Linked DNA regions of Homo sapiens: region 2 is reported to be linked to region 1. The links are microRNA targets in miRTarBase. Many come from high-throughput screens and were not tested one by one. Region 1 holds a microRNA gene; the other region holds the end of a gene's coding sequence.
Evidence for each region. Region 1 holds the annotated microRNA hsa-miR-581 (UCUUGUGUUCUCUAGAUCAGU, at 2,391-2,411, opposite strand). A microRNA usually pairs through its seed, bases 2 to 8, with sites in the 3' UTR of a target mRNA and lowers its output. Matches are read on the target gene's strand: a 7mer-m8 pairs with bases 2 to 8, a 7mer-A1 pairs with bases 2 to 7 and ends in A, and an 8mer does both.

Region 1 (4,248 bases):
AATTCCCATTGGATATGGTATTGTGGAGGACTCTAAATTTCTGAGTCAGCACCCTTCATTTCATGTTGTTTATAGACTAGCTTTGTAACCAGTATTCTACTCAATAGCTAGAGTATTCACAAATACACTAAAATAATGAAGAATAAGCCACTGTGTAATTAAATATGAATAATGAAGACAGCACTTATAACAGTTTGACTTCTATTTCAAGTGAAAAACAGGAAGTTGCCTAAAAAGTTGCTGTGTTTAAAAATGGGTCTTTTTATGGATTTATAATACAATCAAGGGACCAACTTTTGCAGTTTGTTCTCAAATATTAGGAGATGTAGTTTCTTCATCATTTGAAATGATGACATGGAAGACAGCATGCATAAGATCAAACACCTTTTACTCAAAATACAGAATTAATGGGCTTGCTCATATTCCAAGGATGTGTCTTCTTAAACACTGGTTTGTTTCATAGTTCTAAGTTTTTTGGAGGGCCTGACTTAATCCAAAAATACTGTGGCATGCCTACAAGAGTTAACCTCTTATATTTTGAAGTAGAACAAAAAGGGAACATATATTCTGACAGGAGATTCTATCATAATCGCTCAGAACACTGAACTTTTTCAACTTGATGAAAGGTTTCTCCAAGTTAGAAATACTATAAGTAACTCTTTCCAAAAGACTGCTCGTATGTGAAGAGTGAAAAAACAAACTAAACAAAAGCAAAAACTTAGGACTAAAGACTAACAAATGCATATGAAGAAGGAAAGTGCCTTTGCTCAAGGTCATTGTGCTAACAGAATGACTTGCTTAGTTCACGTGCAGATATTTGTTGGCAAATGTTAAGCGATGCAGAAAAAAAGGCACTACATAAATGTGAAAAACAAATAAGTAAAACCATAAACATGAATGTTGTAATTTGATGATTATGTGCAAGATCAATCAAGTAGTGAAAGTATGTAGTATTCAAGTGTTTAAAGTGGCGGCCTGGGCATGGTGGCTCATGCCTGTAATCCCAGCACTCTGAGAGGCTGAGGTGAGAGAAATGCTTGAGGCCAGGAGTTCAGGACCAGCCAGGGCAACACAGTAAAACCTCGTTTCTACAAAAATTAAAAAAAAAAAAACGACTATGCTCAAGGTAGTGAGGAACCACTTCTACTAAGCCAGATGGAAATTGCTAAGAACAGAAAGACGACGATGTCATGACGGCTGGTTAACTATGGGAGCAGCTGGGGTTTGAATTTCTGTTAACAGTAGGAGAAAATAAGGACTGGAGACAGAGGGGGAATCTGAGAAATTCTCTATTTTGGTGGCTAAGCTAACACAATCTACTCACAGCTTTTTTTCATTTGATTACCATTTGAAACAGATTACTTCTCCATTTGAGGGTAATCGTGAAGCAAGATTTCAACTCATGCTCTATCACTACCCATTCCAGGCCACAAATTAAAATAGCCTATTACTACTTTTATACACACAATAAAGAGATCTTCCATCCCAATCTTCTCCATGCTTTTTTTTTTCTCAGCAAAGTTCATGTAAACCAGTAGGTCATAGTAAATCCTAAAATGTATTCCCACAGTGAGATACTTGGAACATTTTCCTTCTGGATTTTATTAAACATAATGTTCTAAGCATTATGAGTGCTCTAAGGTATTTCTTGAATAATAACCCAAACTGCAGAGTGAAAGTAAGTGGCAATTAAAATCCCGAGACAGACGGGAACACTGAGACTAAGAAATAACAGCATCTGTTCCTGACGATGGCTGGACTGCTGATCTAGCTTGGGGTCAGCAAACTTGGCCTGAGGGCCAAATCCAGCCCACTCCCTGTTTTCATATGGCCTGCAAGAGCCAAGAATGGTTTTCACAGTTTTAAATGGTTGGGGGAAAAAAATCAAAACAATATTAGCATATTAAGAACATAAAAATTAGATGAAATACAAATTTCAATGTCCATAAAGTTTCACTGAAACACAGCAAGATTCATTTGTTTATATATTGTCTATTGCAGCTGGGTATGGGAGAGCTGAGTAGCAGGGACTTTGAGTATGGCCTACAAAGCCTATATTTACAATCTGACCCTTTAGAGAAAAGGTTTGCAGACCATGAGCTTGATCAGAACTTCAAATACCATCTGTGGTGAAGGAGCTGGTTTGTTTTGAGTATTTGTTTTCTAACCCATCATAGATCTGAGCTAAGCTTTTGTAGAATACAAAAATCATATACTTTGGATGTTGCAGAGATGTCAGATTGCTATAAATTTCCTAAATGTTTACTCTCAATTTCTGTATTTATCTTCTTGCATACTCAAACAGATATTTTGTGGACTGGCACCAGTCTGCAGGTGGTTCTGTGTAGGTATTCTTTGTGTTCTTTAGATCACACAAATTTTCTAAAAGCACTGATCTAGAGAACACAAGAATACCTTCACATAACTTTTTGGAAAACCTTACTTACTCCTTCCCTATATACTCCTTCCCTATATATTTTCGATATGATGACCACTAAAAATATCAGTAAATAAATATATTGCTTTGTAAATATATTAACTAGATAAAATTATAGTTTTTCCATGAATCTTTTTCAAGCATTATGCTTTATGCTTTAAAATTATAACCAGTTTCTTCCTTACCAGCTACCACATTATATATTTTTACTGTTCTCTTAGACTTTACATAAAAGAATTTTTTTTTTTTTTTTTTTTTTTTTTACATTTTGTGCTTTGGGGAATAACTCAAATTCCATAAACAAAACTATTAGTACAAATGTTTTCTGGACAATCTGTGCTGTGATTTTGGAAATTGTGTGTGAAAGAGGAGAGTAGCTGGGCGTGGTGGCTCGCGCCTGTAATCCCAGCACTTTGGGAGGCCGAGGAGGGTGGATCATGAGGTCAGTTCAAGACCAGCCTGGCCAAGATGGTGAAACCCTGTCTCTACTAAAAATAAAAAAAATAGCCAGGCATGGTGGTGGGTGCCTGTAATCCCAGCTACTCGGGAGGCTAAGGCAGAGAATTGCTTGAACCCGGGAGGCAGAGGTTGGAGTGAGTTGAGATCACGCCACTGCACTTCAGCCTGGGCAACAGAGTGAGACTCTGTCTCAAAAATAAAAACAAACAAACAAAAAAGAAGAGAGTGAAAGAATTTGAGTCCTTGCACAGACAATAACTGTTTTTTATGTTTAAACTTTTTAGTTTCTTATGTTAAACTTTTTATGTTTAAACTTTCAAAAGGTTGAATAAATTTCATCTTATGCTTGCATTATAATAGCAAAGTTCCTTGATATGTCAAAGGCCACAAAAGTAATTTTTAGCTTAGGTACAAAACGTGCCTTGGGCCTGTTTTATATGATACTCCTTGGTTTTAGCACTACATTAAAAAAAATGAATGTGAAAAAAATCATTTCCATGAAAGTTTTTTAATTGGCTCAAAGTTAGTAGCAATTTACTTTCAAATTTCAATCTTTATCTCTCTAGGGAAATACTTAATTCTACTGCAATTTTTATTTAAGAAATGAAATAATTTCTAAACATTTTTAAACTTTAAGAAAGATGAAACTCTGTTATTGTGCCAATGACTTTTTATTATTAGGTGTCAGATGATAAAACATTCAAATAAGAAACAGCACTGGGATTTCACAGTGTCAGGAGAAAGGAAAGTCTATAAAAAGAAACTCAAGGTGTGTTTAAGTATGTGAAAAGAGCAGATAATCCCTAAACCTGTTTTATTTGAAGGCAAATAGGAAGATGCTTGCTTTATTTGTTGTTACAGAAGAATGTTGTTGCTAGCAAAGGATAAAATCTCAAAGCAGAGGGAGAGGGAATATAAAATGGCTGTAGATTAAACTTCTGCAAATGTTCACTTTACTACGCAGCTCCACTGTCATAAAACAGTCAAAATAGTAAGATATACTCATTCAGAACAATGACACAATGTTTATAAATATTTATATGTATGCTGAACTAGACCATTACTAAAAGCTGCAGCTGGGGTATAGAAAGAAAACTAGGATTTGATTGGAGGCCTTATTTTGCAAATTACTAGGCTCCATGATCTTGTGGAACTTACTTAACCTTTCTGAGTCTCAGTTTCTTATCCATAAAATAAATGAGATTCTACCTACCTCTGAAGAATTGAGGAGGATAATATACGTGTCTTGTATAAAGCACTATGCAAATGTGAGGGGTTATTGTTATTTAGTAGGGAGCTCAGAGAATCTTAATATGTATTATATTTAAATTTTCTATAAATAAGTGAACTTT
Region 2 (4,000 bases), not on the chromosome of region 1:
TTTCCACCTCGCCAATAAATACAGACAACCCACCCTTCAGAATTTACACGGTGAAAAGATTTAGTCCAAATGATTCCTAAGAACGCGGGGGGACTCCCTCCCCACGGAAGCCGCGCCCCTGCCCTGTGCAAACTAACGTCTCTTCTTTCCTCAACGGAAGGAACATCGCAAAGGTGGTGAGCCAGGTGCACGCGTTCCAGGAGAACCCTTACACCTTCAGCCCCGACCCCAAGCTCCAGTCGTACCTCAAGCAGAGGATTGCCCGCTTCAGCGGTGCCGACATTTCCACACTCGCCGCAGATAGCAGGGCCAACTTCCACCAGGTCTCCAGCGAGAAGCACTCACGGAAGATTCAGGACAAGCTACGGAGGATGAAGGCTACATTCCAGTAGCCGAGCTCGGGCCTGGTGTGGAATTCCAGATCCGAATCCGACTGTGGGGGGCGGGCTGGGAGGTGGGAGCCGCGTCTCAGGCCCGGCCGTTATCAAGGCCCCTCCGCCCCCGAACCCTGGGGAGCTGGACCAGGAGGTGGAGGCTCAGGGGACCCCATGGGGACAGGCAGAGCTGGTCTCCTCCCAGCAGACGGAGCCAGGACGGGCACAAGAGTCTTGGAGGTTTGCGTGTTTCTGCTAGAATTAAAAAGTTAAATTTAAAAATGAAAATGAAAGACAGCTTCCCAGGAGTTTTGTGCCTGTCTGCGCCTCTCACACACAGATAAGTGGCTCTTACCCAGCTCTCAGTGACTCCCCCACAAAACAGCAACAGCCTCCACCGCCAACTCAACAAACTTCAGAGTAGCTCCTCCCTGAGCAGGTTTCTGAGCCAGCCTGGGTTGGCTGAGCAACGAAGGGCCAAAGCTGACCTCTGAGTGGCCAACTGCAGCTCCCAGGGACTCCGAGACCTCCGGTCCGAGACCCTGCCTGGGTTCACCCCCCACAACCCAGACCCAGAACCGCTCTCCCCTTCCCTGCCCAGTGCCCCTCCTCCCCAGCCCAGACCCCCAGGTGCCCAAGGCCTGCTGCTGGAGCAGGCACCTTGGGCTGGGCCTGCTCCCCCAGGGCCCAGGGCCCCCCAGCTTAGAACAGCCCTTGGTGAGGTGGTCATGCCCGGGCAAAGGCCCTGCTTCCTGGAAAGGACACTCAGAGCAGCTCCAAGACAGAGGCTCTGTGGCGGGGGTCCCTGAGAGTGCCCCCACCCATCTCATGCCCCAGGGACCGCCACTGCCCACCGCCTCCAGCAGCCATGCATGTGCGCCCGCAGCCCTGCCTCCACAGCTCGCCACACACTCACGCTTCGCCAGAGACAGGAAGTGCGCTGCCTCCACGGCCCCTTGCCCTTGCTCAGGTTCTTGGACCCCAGGCAGCTGGTGTGGAGCCCCTTGGCCAGGGCCATGGGAGTCCCGCGCAGTCAGCTCCACATTGGCCTCTGCAGCTGGGTGACCAGAGCCCCGGGCACGGCCCCAGCTCCGTGGGGCTCTCACGGTGCCAATCACAAGACCCAGGGTTGTGCTTTTGAGTTTTAGAATTAGTCATTCTTTAGAGCAGCCAGCTAGTGGCATTTCTAGGAAAACTGTGACCTGTGACAAATCGCTGCATTTTTAATGTCAAGATGTGTTTTCCCACATAAATTCACCGGAGACATCCGGGCCCCGCTTCGATGTAACATGAGAGGAAGTCGGCGTCCTGGCCACGAAATGCAGTTCACTTTTTTTTAGGCTTTTATATGGATTATGTTTTGCTGACCCACGCCCGCATTTTCAGATTTTGTATCTAACAGACAGTGCTCAGTGCAAATCAACATTCCAGCGGTCAGGACTGACCCCGGGGCAGCACTGGGCTCAGGCTTCAGCGCGACTGTCCGCATGGCTCCCTCCCGTCCTGGCACCAATTTCTGAATAAAGTCCTTTCTACCAGCTGCTGCTGTGTGGTCACTCTGCGGGTCCCCACGGTGACCTCTGCAGGTCGACACGTTTTCCTTCATGGCCGCACGAAGGCCCCTTACAGGTGCTCACAAGGACTCCAGGTGCGAGATGTGCTCAACCCAGGACTGAAAACGAATCTGCCGGTCCACAGCGACGCCCTCTGATGCCGCAGAGAAAGGCCCGGGCCTGCCAGACGTGTGTCACAACTCAGGCCCCGCCAGGAGGAAAGCTACCGCCAGCACTCCCAGGCCGTGGGAACAAGCAAACGCACCGGCTGGGGCAGGAAACACTTGCTTCTGGTTGTGACTGCAAACAGCCTAAAAGAACGGACTCCCGTAACCACGCTCCTGTGTGCGCACATCCAGGCTCGCCCTCCATTGACAAAAAGGACGTCCCTCATGCTGGATGTGCAGTGTCTTCATCCAAGATCAGGACGGGCGTCTGTCCATCAGTTCTTACAGGCTATTTGCACAGACCCACGGCTGTTCTTGGGTCAATCTGCGCTAAACTCTGCCCAACCCAGCCAGTTCCCACCTGGCAGCCCTGTGGGCAAGACAGAGCTGGGTCCCCCGTCATCACGGTGCAAGCTCGCCGTAACTCTGACCACAGTGGAGCAGGAGGCCAGGACGGGGAGCTCCTGCAGGTGGGGCTTGTGGCCCGGGAAAGGACACTCTCACGGTTGTCACAGGGTAAGACTGGTGGACACCACTCAGGGAGGGGCTCACAGCCAGGGCTTCCAATGGTTTTGGGGTTGTAAACTGTGGATGCTTTTGGGAAAAGAGCTGATGGGTCTTTCGGGAAGTTCCCGTGATGAACGGTGCGGTTATCCGCCTGGAGGGAGGCCCAGGAGAAGCCGAGAAGACAAGATGGTGGAGTCCAATTGTGCTGGACAGGAGCTGCCCGAGACAGGGGGCCCTGGTCCTGGTCATGTGTGCGTCCTCGCCCCCACGCCATGCAGGCCGGACCCCTCACTGCAGTGGCTCCAATAAATTCAGCTCCGCTGAGCACAGGACTTTTCTCTTAGAGAGCTGACAGCCAGCAACCTCATGAGCCTCGCTTCTCGGCGCCATCCACTCCCCGGCTCTGTCCCCCACGCCGCCATCCACTCCCCGGCTCTGTCCCCCACGCCGCCATCCACTCCCCGGCTCTGTCCCCCACGCCGCCATCCACTCCCCGGCTCTGTCCCAGACGGGTTCAAGGCAGGCTGTGCTGTGCACTGCAGTGCCACTGTGGGCTAGACAGTCTGCGCTGGCGTCCTGTGCACCATCATCTCTGATCTCCACCCATCAGATGCCCCCAGCACCCCCAACCCTCAGTTATTAAAAATCTTTTTTTTTTTTTTGAGACAGAGTCTCACTCCGTCACCTAGGCTGGAATGCAGTGGTGCGATCTTGGCTCACTGCAACCTCCACCTCTTGGGTTCAAGCGATTCTCCTGCCTCAGCCTCCTGAGTAGCTGGGACTACAGACACATGCCACGACACCCAGCTAATTTTTTGTATTTTTAGTAGAGACGGGTTTCACTGTGTTAGCCAGGATGGTCTCAATCTCCTGACCTCGTGATCCGCCCGCCTCGGCCCCCCAAAGTGCTGGGTGTCAACAGGCTTGAGCCACGCGCCCAGCCTTTTTTTTTTTTTTAGATCCACCTCCCAGGTTCAAGCAATTCTCCTGCCTCAGCCTCCCTAGAAGCTGGGATTACAGGTGCACATCCAACGCCTCGCTAATTTTTGTATTTTTAGTAGAGATGGGGTTTCACCATGTTGGCCAGGCTGGTCTCAGACTCCTGACCTCAGGTGATCCGCCTGCCTCAGCCTCCCAAAGTGCTGGGATTACAGCCACCACGCCTGCACGCCCCCCTTTTCTTTTTAAGACAGAGTCTTGCCCTGTCACCCAGGCAGGAGTGCAGTCAGGTCATCACGGTACACTGCAGGCTTAACCTCCTGAGCAAAAGGACATCCTCCCGCCTCAGCCTCCCAAGTAGCTGGAACTACAGGCACCTGCTACTACACTCGGCTATTTTTTATTTTTTTGCAGAGATGGGGGTCTCACTATATTGCCCAGGTCAGTCTCAAACTCCTGG

Region 2: the mRNA of KNDC1 is a reported target of hsa-miR-581. Seed matches in the 3' UTR shown: 7mer-A1 at 599-605 and 7mer-A1 at 1,490-1,496.

The regions. Positions count from the first base shown.
Region 1 is chr5:53,949,174-53,953,421 of GRCh38, forward strand. It overlaps MIR581 (microRNA 581), which reads right to left and starts at 2,426; the gene lies at 2,331-2,426. All of the region lies in intron 4 of ARL15 (ARF like GTPase 15), which reads right to left.
Region 2 is chr10:133,224,499-133,228,498 of GRCh38, forward strand. It overlaps KNDC1 (kinase non-catalytic C-lobe domain containing 1), which reads left to right. Exons shown (of 30, transcript NM_152643.8): 30 at 161-1,914. The coding sequence ends at 392. Among named protein-coding and RNA genes, the nearest start is that of UTF1, 3.7 kb to the right of the region's middle. RefSeq lists an enhancer at 597-1,220.